Homo sapiens: one gene and its partners. The protein of the gene in region 1 purifies or fractionates together with the protein of each later gene. This does not show direct contact. Each region holds a gene or a part of one and is shown in the gene's direction. Other genes may lie near its edges.

What was found. Proteins that work in one complex are often made in the same cells at the same time.
Region 2: the proteins of DHX40 (region 1) and ZC3H8 fractionate together in Homo sapiens (co-fractionation; one large-scale study listed by BioGRID). This does not show direct contact.
Region 3: the proteins of DHX40 (region 1) and SSH3 fractionate together in Homo sapiens (co-fractionation; one large-scale study listed by BioGRID). This does not show direct contact.
Region 4: the proteins of DHX40 (region 1) and EXOC2 fractionate together in Homo sapiens (co-fractionation; one large-scale study listed by BioGRID). This does not show direct contact.

What each region holds. Positions count from the first base shown.
Region 1 is NC_000017.11:59,596,610-59,600,109, forward strand, and holds part of DHX40 (probable ATP-dependent RNA helicase DHX40), read left to right. Parts: intron 1-2,127; coding exon 2,128-2,242; intron 2,243-2,765; coding exon 2,766-2,874; intron 2,875-3,500. UniProt on the Homo sapiens protein: Probable ATP-dependent RNA helicase.
Region 2 is NC_000002.12:112,248,543-112,252,042, reverse strand, and holds part of ZC3H8 (zinc finger CCCH domain-containing protein 8), read left to right. Parts: intron 1-1,770; coding exon 1,771-1,852; intron 1,853-3,500.
Region 3 is NC_000011.10:67,306,530-67,309,810, forward strand, and holds part of SSH3 (protein phosphatase Slingshot homolog 3), read left to right. Parts: intron 1-308; coding exon 309-433; intron 434-512; coding exon 513-584; intron 585-841; coding exon 842-907; intron 908-1,019; coding exon 1,020-1,208; intron 1,209-1,316; coding exon 1,317-1,410; intron 1,411-1,644; coding exon 1,645-1,773; intron 1,774-1,882; coding exon 1,883-1,929; intron 1,930-2,867; coding exon 2,868-3,014; intron 3,015-3,238; coding exon 3,239-3,281. UniProt on the Homo sapiens protein: Protein phosphatase which may play a role in the regulation of actin filament dynamics. Can dephosphorylate and activate the actin binding/depolymerizing factor cofilin, which subsequently binds to actin filaments and stimulates their disassembly.
Region 4 is NC_000006.12:683,140-686,639, reverse strand, and holds part of EXOC2 (exocyst complex component 2), read left to right. Parts: intron 1-3,500. UniProt on the Homo sapiens protein: Component of the exocyst complex involved in the docking of exocytic vesicles with fusion sites on the plasma membrane.

The sequences.
Region 1 (3,500 bases):
AGAAATGGAGATTAATAATCATTTATATCTTTTCCTTACCAGGGTCATTTGTATGTTTGTATGGTCTGAGATAAATCATATTCTTTTTTATTTTTTTGTCTCTAGCTGCTTCATTCAGTTGCTACCTAGGTAACATAGTTGGAAGCTACTTAAAGCATGGGATAGAAGACTTTATACCTTCATCAGTGTTTTCTTTAATCAAATTACTTTCCTCCTAGTAACAGGAACTGCTGCTTTGCAGATTCACATCGTATTCTATAGTAAATGCTGCTCCCTGGATTCAGGCAACATTGTGCCTCTGCTAGATCTAGCTGTGATAGGTATAGGGAATAGGAATTGTGATGTGACGTGTTAGATTGAAGGAAAGGATCCCTATGCAGTTTTGAAAAAATGGCACTCTGAAAGATTAGCCCTGGATAAAGTGCTGTATGGGGAATTTGGGCAATCAGAGAGCACATGAGTCCTGAATGGGATCAGGGGAAGTGGTATCGAAGTAATTAACAGATAAATCTCAAAAACGTAATGTTGAGCAAGAGAAAACAGACACATCAAGTACATACTATACGATTCATTTATACAAAGGTTAAAAATGGGCAAAACCCATCTGTAGGATTAGAAGTCAGGATATAGTTATTCTTGTGGAAGGGAATGGGTAGTTACTCGAAGGAGGGCATAAAAGGGGGCTGTTGAGATGCTGGTGATACTGTTTGTTGATCTGGGTACATTGGTATGTTGTGTTTGTGAATATTATATGAGCTACACACTTACGTCCTGTGTAATTTTCTGTATGCATATTATACTTCAATATTACATTAAAAAAGAAAATGTTCGTAGTAGGTCAGTTCTGCATATATGGAGATCATGTCTAATTGCCCATAATTGGGAATTGGATAAATAAGAACTGGTTAAATTGTGTTATGTTCCCCATACTCCTGGGGAATACCATATCATTGTTTTTTTCTTTAGACAAGGTTTCACTCTGTTGCCCAGGCCAAAGTGCAGTGATGCGATCACGGCTCACTGTAGCCTCAACCTCCTGGGCTTGGGCCGGGCACGGTGGCTTATGCCTGTAATCCCAGCACTTTGGGAGGCCGAGACGGGCAGATCACAAGGTCAGGAGATCGAGACCATCCTGGCTAACATGTGAAACCCCGTCTCTACTAAAAATACAAAAAATTAGCCGGGCGCGGTGGCGGGCGCCTGTAGTCCCAGCTACTCGGGAGGCTGAGGCAGGAGAATGGTGTGAACCCGGGAGGCGGAGCTTGCAGTGAGCCGAGATCGCGCCACTACACTCCAGTCTGGGCGATAGAGCGAGACTCCGTCTCAAAAAAAAAAAAAAAAAAACCTCCTGGGCTCAAGCGATCTTCCCACCTCAGCCTCCTGAGTAGCTGGGACTACAGGCATGCATCACCATGCCTGGCTAATTTTTGTATATTTTGTAGAGACAGGATCTTGCTTTGTTGCCTAGGCTTGTCTTGACCTCCTGGGCTCAATTGATCCACTTGCCTTGGCCTTTGAAATTGCTGGGATTACAGGTGTGAGCTACCACACCTGGCCCTATATTGCTATTTTTGAGAAAGAATAATTCTATATGTACTGATATGGAGTTGTTATTAAATAAACAAATTTTCAGATTATATATTCCATTTATAGAAAAATGAAACACTATGTACATATGCTTATATATACATAGAAATTACCTGGAAGGACACACACTAAATAATGAACAGTACTTTGTCTTGAGGATTGGTTTATGGGTAGTGTGACTGGGGAACATTGAACTTTTACATGATATTCTTTTATACCATTACATTTTTTTTTCTGTAAGCATGGATTACTCTTATAACAAAACTAATTTAAAAAGTAAATTACAAATACTATTTTTAAAAGGCAAATAGATTGGGAGAAGTAATGTTGCTATTCAGGTAAAATCTCCAAAGTGATATGAAAAGAAAAAAAGGAATTGTGGGAGAAATAGAGCTTCCTAAGAGAAGTTAAGAAGAGTTAATATAGTTCTACCTTACTTCACCCCAGAGGATGAGGCAGATTTTAATGAGTTTCTGAAAGCAAAGTGATTGTAGGCACTTAATGCAAAGTATAACTGAATTGCCTCTCCAATTCTTTTAGTTGATCCAGAGTACCAGAAGGAAGCAGAACAGAGACATCGAGAATTGGCAGCTAAAGCTGGAGGATTTAATGACTTTGCAACTTTAGCTGTCATCTTTGAACAATGCAAATCAAGGTATGTAAGGTAGTCCTTTGTCCTGAAAAATGTCAATTTGATGTATAGTTCCAATACGTACTTATGATGTGGCTTGTGACACTAACGTTCAGTGAAGATGATATTGACTTCAAGGTATTTTGAATTTCAGTGAAATTATCTATGTCAGATGACTATTGCTTAGTAGGCATTTATTATATAACATTGATTCTCTTCTTTTCTCCTCAAACCTTTACTGAAAATGACCTTATAGAATTTTGCTTCTATATAGGTAGCCTAGATTAAAAAATGATTGGATATTTGTTATTGCATATATAAGTAAAGAAATCCATTTACAAATTATTTTTTAATTTAGTCAGGGGCACATTCATTAATTTAAATGTTTTTTTCAAGTTTCCTAAAATTCTTTTTTAGTACTTGGACAGGTCTCCTGAAGGAACTGACAGTTGTTTATGGGTTTCCACTTTTGTAATAGAAATGAGAATTTTAGATTGTCTTTTACTTAGAGAAGATATTTTAAAGATACCAGTTTTTTGTTTTGCAGTGGAGCTCCAGCTTCATGGTGCCAAAAACACTGGATTCATTGGAGGTGCTTATTTTCTGCATTTCGTGTGGAAGCTCAACTTCGAGAACTAATCAGGAAGCTTAAACAGGTGATTGCCGTAATGTTTTTTTTCTTGAGTAGCATTTTGGACCTATATATTTCATATTGAAGTTTCATTGATGTACATTAGCACCCTTTCTATTCTACCACCCTTCCATTCTATTTGTTTCTATGACCTCCTTGACCCCATGAAACATTCCTAGTAGTGATAAAAGAATTGTCTTCACAGAAATGAAGATATTTAAAAATTGCTTTCCTGATATATAATTGACGTGTGATAACCTACACATATTTAATGTATACACTTTGATGAGTTTTGACATTTGCGTAAAACAACTATCAAGATAATGGTACATATCCATCATCTCCCAGTTTTCTCATCCTCCCCCCCACCTTTTTTTTTTTTTGAGATGGAGTCTCACTCTGTCACCCAGGCTGAAGTGCAGTGGCGTGATCTCGGCTCACTGCAATCTCCACCTCCCAGGTTTAAGCAATTCTTCTGCCTCAGCCTCCCAAGTAGCTGGGATTACAGGCTTGCGTCACCACACCCGGCTAATTTTTGTAGTTTTAGTAGAGATGGGGTTTTGCCGTGTTGGCCAGGCTGGTCTCAAACTCCTGACCTCAAGTGATCCACCTGCCTCGGCCTTCCAAAGTGCTGGAATTACAGGCATGAGC
Region 2 (3,500 bases), on another chromosome or scaffold:
ATAGACAAAGAAGAGAAGAGGTGAGAACTGACTTTGAAAGTTGTGAAGATAAGGAACCAACAAAGGAGACTGAGAAGTAGTAGCTGTGGAAAGAAGAAACTAGAAGAGCCCACTATCTCTGAAGCTAAGTAAAGAACATGTTTTACAGAGAAGAGGTGGTCACCTCTGTCCTATCCTGCTCATAGGTCTAATATGGGTGCTGAGTATTGTAGACCTTCACAGTGAAAGTAGACATCTATTTAGAATGGGCAGTGTTGAATAACAGTGTGATTGTAGGGCACATACTTGGGAGCTTTGCCTGCCTGCTGGGGCTCAGATCTCAGCTCCACCATGTATTAGCTCTGTGACAAGTTACATATCCTTTCTGTGATTGTTTTCTCATCCGTAAAATGGGCTTTTAGTATGTATGTCATAACACTGTTGTTTGTGGTAAGTGTTACGTGTATGGAGCAGCATCTGGCACAGAGTAAGCATCATTCAAGTGTTGGCTGATGCTGTTACTGCTATTGAGGTCATTATTGTCATTATTCCTCTGCCTAAGGAGAGGTTGCCTCCTACTCCATGAGATGATTCATTACTGGAAACTATAGCTATAAAGATTCACAAGTATTGGGGTTTTTGGTTCTTGTAATGGTGGCTTCTGTAGCAGGCTCACAACTTAGTACCTCATCTGATGGATGTAACTCTGGAGCTCTGAGTCAGTGTAAACTGTTGAATTGGACAAAGCTGTGAAGCCTGAGCTCCTGTAACTTTGAAAGAACAGCCACGGAGCCACTGTTCACATTCTCCTTGTGCTGTCAGTGCTTTCCCTTTGTAACATGTTCTCTTGAGATGGGACACATTCCCCAATTCCTTGCCTTTATCTGGTGTGTAACTCATATTTTAATTCACAGCTTTTCCCAATCTTGTGTTCAATAGTCACCACTTACTAAGATAATATTTTCTTCAGCTCCCTATATTTCTAGTATCAACCATTATTCAGATACATCTATACATTTTATTGTCTTCTTTGTTCACCATGTTCTTATATTTCCCATCCCTCTTGGGTTCATATTTAGTTTTGCTGGAATAGCCTCAAGTAATTGTCTCAGACTGTTATATATATGCATGGTCAACTTCTCAGTCCTGTAAGTCTGAAAACAGTTTTTCTTTTTCATCTTTACACTTAAATGTGTTTGTCTCGCTCCTAATCTCAAAAGGCACTCTGCATTCTGCCTAAAATACCCTTCTCTCTCACATTCCTCTTTCCTCTTTTTTGGCTAACTCATAAGTATCATTTAGGCTCTGAATGCCTCTGATCCCCAAGTCTGGGTTGTGTTCCCCATATATGCCCCTATACTTACCATACCATATTGAAATAGCTTTATTTTTTTCTCCCAAGGAGATAGAAAGCTCTCAGAACACAGTGACAGGGTCTGTATTTTTCATTGTTGTAGTCCAGGGCCTAAGGCCCGGAGCCTCGTACATGGTGGGTACTTAGTAGTTGTTGAATTAATGGAATGATGGATGAATGAATGATTTATATAGCTGCTAATACTTGAACATTAAGGCTTTATAATCTAAAATTTTACAGGCTATTCATAAATATATATGGACATTTATTGGTCATCATAATTTTGTACATTTTCTGGAGTATTTGGTATAGAATTTGAATTTGTAATTTCTTTGAGGGTAAGTTGAAGACAAGCCAAAGCAGTGAATTGTAACGCTGTGGTATGAACACTTCAGGTTGAAAAAACTCTTTTGTGTTATTTGATATTTTTGCTACAGAATCGATGATGAAATAGATACAGAAGTTGAAGAAACACAAGAAGAGAAAATTAAACTGGAGTGCGAGCAAATTCCCAAAAAAGTAAGATTAAGTTGACCACTGTTTAAGTTGAAAACGCAGATTTTTTTTTCTCAGTTTCACATGGAACAACAAAAAAAGAAAAAACAGATGGAAATGGATATGAGAAATTAATGAAGGATCCTACTTGTCTCATTTTACCAGCATTTGGGACCCAGTTACTTATATCAAAGAAAACTGGTTATACTTTTTAAATAAATTATTATTTAATAACTTTATTGTCATTTAACATGACATATGTTTAATAATTGCATTTATTTCTATTTTTGTTATTTCTGAAATGGACTGTAAACAGTTTCAAAAGCTTCTTTCAAGTTGGGTTAACATTTTTGAGGGTTATGATTTGTTAACTTAACCAACCTTAGTGATTTATAGCTTAAAGCCCGTATTAGTTCATTAGGGCTGCCATAACAAAGTACCACAGACTGGGTGGCTTAAACAACAGAACTTGGCTGGGCGCGGTGGCTCACGCCTGTAGTCCCAGCACTTTGGGAGGCCGAGGTGGATGGATCATGAGGTCAGGAGTTTGAGACCAGCCTGGCCAATATGGTGAAACCCATCTCTACTAAAAATACAAAAAAATTTAGCCAGGCATGGTGGCATGCACCTGTAGTCCCAGCTACTAGGGAGGCTGAGGCAGAAGAATCACTTGAACCCAGGAGGTGGAGGTTGCAGTAAGCCAAAATCCCGCCACTGCACTCCAGCCTGGGCAACAAAGCGAGACTCCGAATCAAAACAAAAACAAAAACAAAAAAAACCCCAGAACTTTATTGTCTCAAGGTTCTGGAGGCTGGAGGTCCCAGCACAAGGTGTTGGCAGGGTTGGTTCCTTCTGAGGCTGTGGGGAAGAATCTATTCATTCATCTCCCCTAGCTCCTGATGGAATGCTGGCAATCTTTGGTGATGGCTTGCAAAAGTATCATCCTGATTTCTGCCTTCATATTCACATGGTGTTCTCCCTGTATGCCTGTGTCTGAATTGTCTGAATTTCCTTTTTTTGAGACAGAGTCTTGCTCTGTCACCCAGGTTGGAGTGCAGTGGCACAATCTCTGCTCACTGCAACCTCCTTCTGGACTCAAGCAATTCTCAGCCTCCCAAGTAGCTGGGATTACAGGTGTGCACCACCACGCCCAGCTAATTTTTGTGTTTTTTGTAGAGAAAAAATATACATGGGGTTTCGCCATGTTGCCCAGGCTGGTCTCGAACTCCTGGGGTCAAGCGATCTGACCGCCTCGGCCTCCCAAAGTGCTGGGATTACAGGCCTGAGCGACTGTGCCCGGCTGAATTTTCCTTTTTTATAAGGAAATCAGTCACTGGACTAGGGCCCACCCTAATGACCTAATCTTAATTAATTACACTTGCAATGACCCTATTTCCAAAAAAGGTCACATTCTGAGGTATTAGGGGTTAGTAGTTCATTATAAGAATTTTGGGAGGGTGCAGTTCAACCCATAACAAAGGTAATGTATATTCCTATCTTGCCCTTCTTTTCTGTTTTTGAACATGGAGAAACGCCATCTCTACTAAAAATACAAAATTAGCCAAGCATGGTGGCAGGCACCTGTAATCCCAGCTACTCAGGGAGCTGAGGCAGGAGAATCGCTTAAACCCGGGAGGCAGAGGTTGCGGTGAGCCGATATCATGCCATTGCA
Region 3 (3,281 bases), on another chromosome or scaffold:
GTTCGGGGCTACAGTGAGCTGTGATGGTGCCACTGTACTCCAGCCTGGGCGACAGAGTGAGACCCTATCTCAAAACAAAAACAAAAACAACCTCCTTCCTCAGCAGAAACAAAAAATGTGCAACCTATGTCAGTCCCATTCCCCGCTTTTTTCCACACAGTCCCTCTTTACCCACTGATTTTACATCTGGGAAGAGGGGGGATGGGAGAGGAAGGAGCAGGGTCAGCACTGTTCTGGGCCTGGGGTGTCTAGGTGGGGAGCAGGGTCCTTGGGGCCACTGTGACCCTGGGTTCCTCATCTCCCCCCAGGCAGCCCAGCTGGAGGCACCCCGGCCTCCCCGGCTCCGCTACCTGCTGGTAGTTTCTACACGAGAAGGAGAAGGTCTGAGCCAGGATGAGACGGTCCTCCTGGGCGTGGATTTCCCTGACAGCAGGTTCGAGCAGGGAGAGGAAAGGAGGGGCAAAGAGGTGAGGGACAGGGGGGACAATGGCTTTCCCTCTGTCCCCTGCCAGCTCCCCCAGCTGCACCCTGGGCCTGGTCTTGCCCCTCTGGAGTGACACCCAGGTGTACTTAGATGGAGACGGGTAAGCAATGGCAACTGGAGGTGGGGGCTGGAGGGTGGAATAACTGAGTGTGACGGATGTGACGGGGCCTGGGCACCAGGGTACAGTAGAACTTTAGGCTGGGACTCTGGGGCCTGCTCCCAGCTCCACGTCAGATTCACCGTGATCCTGAGCAAGGCACCTGACTCCTGGGTCTCGGCTTCCCGTATCCAGCAAAAGGATGGGTTCTCTGTCGCAGAGCCTGGAGTCTGGCCTCACCTGTGCCTGGTCTCCTGCAGGGGCTTCAGCGTGACGTCTGGTGGGCAAAGCCGGATCTTCAAGCCCATCTCCATCCAGACCATGTGGTAAGGACAGAGACTGCCTGGACTCAGGCCAGCCTCTCCTTCGAAGGAGGCTGCAGGGCCTGGGGAAGGGCAGCAAGGGAACAGTGTGACCCAGCCTCTCCTCCTGTCTCAGGGCCACACTCCAGGTATTGCACCAAGCATGTGAGGCAGCTCTAGGCAGCGGCCTTGTACCGGGTGGCAGTGCCCTCACCTGGGCCAGCCACTACCAGGAGAGACTGAACTCCGAACAGAGCTGCCTCAATGAGTGGACGGCTATGGCCGACCTGGAGTCTCTGCGGCCTCCCAGCGCCGAGCCTGGCGGGTCAGTGTGTGGAGGGGAGGGACTGGGTGGAGGGGAAGGCAGGATAATGCAGTGGGGGGCATGGTGGAGAGGGGAAAGGGCCCCTTGACTGAGGGGCTCTGCTCCCAGGTCCTCAGAACAGGAGCAGATGGAGCAGGCGATCCGTGCTGAGCTGTGGAAAGTGTTGGATGTCAGTGACCTGGAGAGTGTCACTTCCAAAGAGGTGGGCAGGGGGCCCGGGGACTGAGTCCCCTCTAGCAGGGGCTGCAAGCTTGCCTTTCCTGGGAGCCCTCCCCACCTTGCCTGTCTCCAGTCCTGAGCCATTCCTGGATGCCTTGGCCTTGGCCCTAATCCATCTAGATGGGATAGGGTGCTGTCCTCAGAGGTCCCAGAGGGAAGGTGGCAGGTTGGGCACTAGGAGAGCCCCAGCCTCTCTTGCCCTGGGCTCTGCCTGCAGATCCGCCAGGCTCTGGAGCTGCGCCTGGGGCTCCCCCTCCAGCAGTACCGTGACTTCATCGACAACCAGATGCTGCTGCTGGTGGCACAGCGGGACCGAGCCTCCCGCATCTTCCCCCACCTCTACCTGGTGAGCTTCAGCCAGGCCTGGGCCATGGGGACCGCTGGCAGCTGTGAGGGCGGCAGGCCAGGAGCAGAGGCTGGAGGAGAGGAGAAATGTGCTGTTCCCTCTCTCCCAGGGCTCAGAGTGGAACGCAGCAAACCTGGAGGAGCTGCAGAGGAACAGGTAGGGCTATGAGCCCCTCGGGCCACCCACCCCATCTTCCCTTCTCCTGGCCTCCCCGCATTGGGTGGTAGCCAGCTTCAAAAACCCCTGGACCACCCTCAGCAGCTGCTAGCTCTGCTTCTAACTCTGTCCTGGGGCTGTTGCCCTGGTGTGGGCTCCCAGGTGGGGACAGGAGACCTGCTGGCCAGCCCCCGCCCACTCTCCTCCCCCATCCACACTGTGAAACAAGGACAGAAACAAAGGGCCTCAGCCACGCCAAGACGAGAAGCAGCAGCGCATACTGCTGTAACTGCCTTGGACAAGCAGAAAAAGGCTCCTCTTGAATGCGCCTGTGGGCCCAGCTACTTGGGAGGCTGAGGCAGGAGGATCGCTTGAGCCCTGGAGATTGAGGCCGCAGTGAGCCGTGATCACGCCACTGCACTCCAGCCTGGGCAACAGAGAGAGACCCTGTCTCTAAAAAATAAGAAAAAAGAAAGAGAGAAAAAGCCTTTTCTCCACCTTGCCCTGTCTCAGGGAAGAAGGAACTGCCCTTCTCCCCGTGGGGACCTGGCTGCCTGCTCTGACAGGTACCTGTCATCTGCCCACCATGGGCTTCTGGGACCTGCTGTAGCCCCTGCCACCCACTGCTGCAGACCCACCCACTCTCAGCTTAGCTCAAAAGCTGTTCTCTAACTCATTTCTGAGAATAACTGAAGGGCTGGAGTTGCAGTTGGCCCAGCTGTCTGGACCAGATGGGGAAACAAGCCCAGCAGGGCAAGATGATTGGTCTAAGGTCGCAGCCAGGTGACAGCTGGGTCACTTCTCCTCCCACTGTCACTGCTGCCTCCATCTGACTTGAAACTCAGAGCTAAAGCGAGGCCCAGGGGCTGCCAGGTCCGATTGCCAGTGGGCCTGGTACCTCTGCCCACATCAGCCTGGCCTTGGGCCCTCTGGGACAGGGTCACCCACATCTTGAACATGGCCCGGGAGATTGACAACTTCTACCCTGAGCGCTTCACCTACCACAATGTGCGCCTCTGGGATGAGGAGTCGGCCCAGCTGCTGCCGCACTGGAAGGAGACGCACCGCTTCATTGAGGCTGCAAGGTCGGTCTCCTGGCTTTGCTGCCTGCCCCACTGTGGCTTCAAGCGGCCTCCGGTGCCCTCCTCCTGCCCACTCTGCCATCAGCTGTGCCATTCCTTCCAGCCCTCAGTGTCCTTCCCTCCTTCTCTACTCTCAGTTGGTTGTGAGCCCTTCACCTGCCCTCCCCTGCAGGAGGCGGGATCCTTCATGGTGAGGGGAGGGTGCTGAACCTGGCCTGCTTCCACAGAGCACAGGGCACCCACGTGCTGGTCCACTGCAAGATGGGCGTC
Region 4 (3,500 bases), on another chromosome or scaffold:
AGAACAGCTGAGTAATCCGGTATATATATAACAGATCTCTTTTATGGGGGCTCTGAGAGCTAAGTTGTCAGGCATTCCCTATATACTTGTCTGGCTTCCAGTATTCCTTCCTAGTCATCTCATGCACATTCTCGTCCCCTTAATCTCTCACCTCCAAACATTGTAGAGGGAGGGAAGGCCTTTATTCCCATTCCTAAAATAAATAAATAAAAATCAAGTGTCATTTATCAGTTATATGGTTTAAATTATTGGATTATTTTCCCAAAAGAATTAAAATATAAACAAATATGCTTTCATTTGAAACCATAGATAGTAGTTCATGTATTTTTTTGTTTGTAGAGGTAGAGAAGGAAAAGAAGTATAAAAAGAGGTCCAGGAGGCCGGGCGCGGCGGCTCACACCTGTAATCCCAGCACTTTGGGAGGCCGAGGAGGGCGAATCATGAGGTCAGGAGTTTGAGACCATCCTGGCCAATATGATGAAACCCCGTCTCTACTAAAAATACAAAAAAATTAGCTGGGCATGGTGGCGCATGCCTGTAATCCCAGCTACTTGGGAGGCTGAGGCAGGAGAATCGCTTGAACCAAGGAGTCGGAGGTTGCAGTGAGCCCCACTGCACTTCAGCCTAGTGACAGAGTAAAACTCCGTCTCAAAAAAAAAAAAAAGAGGTCCAGGAAAGCAGGATACATTAATACATTACTTCTTACCTGTTCAGTCCAACCTGGCGACAGAGCAAGACTCCGTCTCAAAAAAAAAAAAAAAAAAAAAAAAGAGGTCCAGGAAAGCAGGATACATTACTTCTTACCTGTTCAGTCCTCCCCTTCTGCAAATGGCCCTTCTGAGACCCAGCGAGTCTTCTGCCCTTATCAGGCCGTAACTCTATACAATTTGGCCCCTATGAGTTCTTTCAGATCTGTGCATGCTTGTATTTTTGTTAACTATGATTTGGGGATGGAGCAGGAGGAGCAAGAGGATTAATTTGGAAAACTGGATTACAGAGTTCATGACCCTGTCTCTGAGACTTGTCCCACTGTGTGCTGTTATATGGTAGAATTTGTGGCAGTGCTAATGTAACTTGCACTTGATCTCACTCAGGAAGTGTGGAGTCTGTGTTTATAGAGAACTGGGGAAGAAAATCACCATTTTCCCGAACCCTTTCCCCAATATCTCTGGGCAATCCCTTTGGGTCCAGCCCAACCCAGCCCAGCAGGGACAAGTCTGTCTTAGGTTAGGTTGGGCCTGACTCTAGAAAGATTTGGTGAATTCTCTACTTTGATTATATTTTATGGTGCCCTGAGAGTTGGCTGAGCCTAATTTTACTGTTGAAACTCACTAGGCAGCTCTGCAACAGGATTCTTCTGGGGTCCTCTGGACCCAAAGTGGTTCTGGACAGCTAAGGCTACTGAGATTCTGCTTGATTTGTTCCCTGGTGATGCCAGTGCTGCCAGGTTGAGGCATATATGGGGAAGGGTGGACGTTTGGGAGGGTTGTGTGTGTGTGTGTGTGTGTGTGTTTTCAAATGATTGTGGGGAAAATCACCTTTCTATAGTCTGATCTGTTAGCGAAATAGTGTTTTCACATCATGAGGCCTTCCGTGGCCTGTTGAGTAGAGGTTATCCTAGTCTTCAGTGAGTCAGAACTTCTGTATTTTTCTGGTTCCTGGCCTTCTCTAGCTGAGAAGAACATCTGGGAGCATGACAAGGTGAGACCGTGATCACTCATTTTGTTCAGATTTCTTGTCTGCTGTTGAAATCAGCGAAACTCTTCATTACTAAATAGTAAAAAGTACTGCTTTTATGATTCTAAAACTACTTTCAGTTGTGGTTTCATTTCTGATTTTTTTCTTTATATTATTACTGCTAACTTTTTCTGTGTATTTTTAGTCTGAAGTTCTGTGAAAAATGACAACTTACTGTCTTTTTTTCTAGTAGTAAATATTTTGGAAAATTAAAATTGTGCCACAGTTTTAATTTGAGAAATTAAATATGGGAAAATTATAGAATTAAAATTTTCTGACTTCTGTTGCAGAAAACACTTTAAATCCATCCCTGTATGCTTCATTAAAGGAAAAGAGGCAGATGGTTTAAAATTAATATAGTATATCTATAAGGAAAATGTATTTACTTAAGTGTACAGTATAAATTGTAAGAAAATGTGGCCTTTTGTCTTGATTTTAGTGAAATGCTTTTGTAATAGTAATTTTCTCTTTTGACCTGTGATGGATAGGAGGTTAATTGATGTTAAATGGATGCTTTGTTAATCCTTCATCAGCTACTAAATTGGTATGGGGGAGTACAGGTCAAGACTACACAAGGCCATGACCAGCTTGTTTTCTCAGGGAGGTTTATGGATTCCACCCCTCCCCCTTCTCTAAACCACACATCACTCTCTCCAGCTGCACATAGGGAAGACTCTCCTGTCTCCCCTCCCCCTCTTCCTGCGGTCCTGTCTCCCCCTCCCTAACCTCATCCTTCTCCCTCTCTGGGCTGCTGCAGAGTGACAGCTTGTAGATGTTGCGTGCGAGGGAGTTCAGCTGGCGCTGTGTGGTCCGAGTGTGTGGTCTCCCGCTCAGCCGAGAGGCTGCTAACAGGGTGGATGAGAGAGAGAGCAACACTGTTTACTTTAATTTATTTCGGATGCCGGAATTGTGCCCAGAGTTTCTCCTGAGCTTGATTCCATAGCTAGCAGCTTCAATCCTTCGCAGCTGCGGTGCGTTCTGAACTCTGGGCTGTCCTTTCCTGACAGGCACTTTCCATAGCATCTGCCTGCTTAATCCCTCACGGCTCAGAAATGTTAACGGCACTGTTGAGTGCTGTGATTATTTTGCTTTCACTATGTCAAGATTTATGGCCTTCGAGAAGCTTCTTTTGAGATAGAGCTAGAGAAGGAAAGCAGAATTTGTAAGATCAGTGACAAAGTTGATGTATTTTTGGAAATTGGAAAAGCTATTATACAAAATTTGGGTCAAATTAATCCAACTTTGCTCATATAAAAGAACCTGGGAGTTAGCGACATCCTGTCATGTTTAACAGTTTTAATGAAATTAACCAATTTAAGCTGACGGTTGGTTTCTTGACCTTTTCTGAAACTCTGCATTGATTTTGGCATGCCTGTTTACCATAGTTATTATATTTGTCAGCGGTGATATTGGTTTATTTCATCCTAAAGATTTGACAAGTCGAGACAAATGAAACTTTGTTTTTATGTAGTAGTATAAATTTAGGAGAATATCTTTTTATCCAATCCTTTCATTATGAATAGCTTAGTAATATTTTCTTGATTTTGTTCCTCTCTCATTCCTGAACATTATTGTTGAGATGGTCAAGTATTTTGTTATTTGAATAAACATATGTAGACTCTTGATATCACTTGGGATTTTGCATTGTTTAGCTTCTTTATTTTCATGTCTTCCTGGCAGTCTTGCTGGAATGGAGTTGGTGGTGTTGATGTTTGTCAAGGATTAGAAAGTCTAGGCCACTCACATCTTCCCGCAAGGTCAGT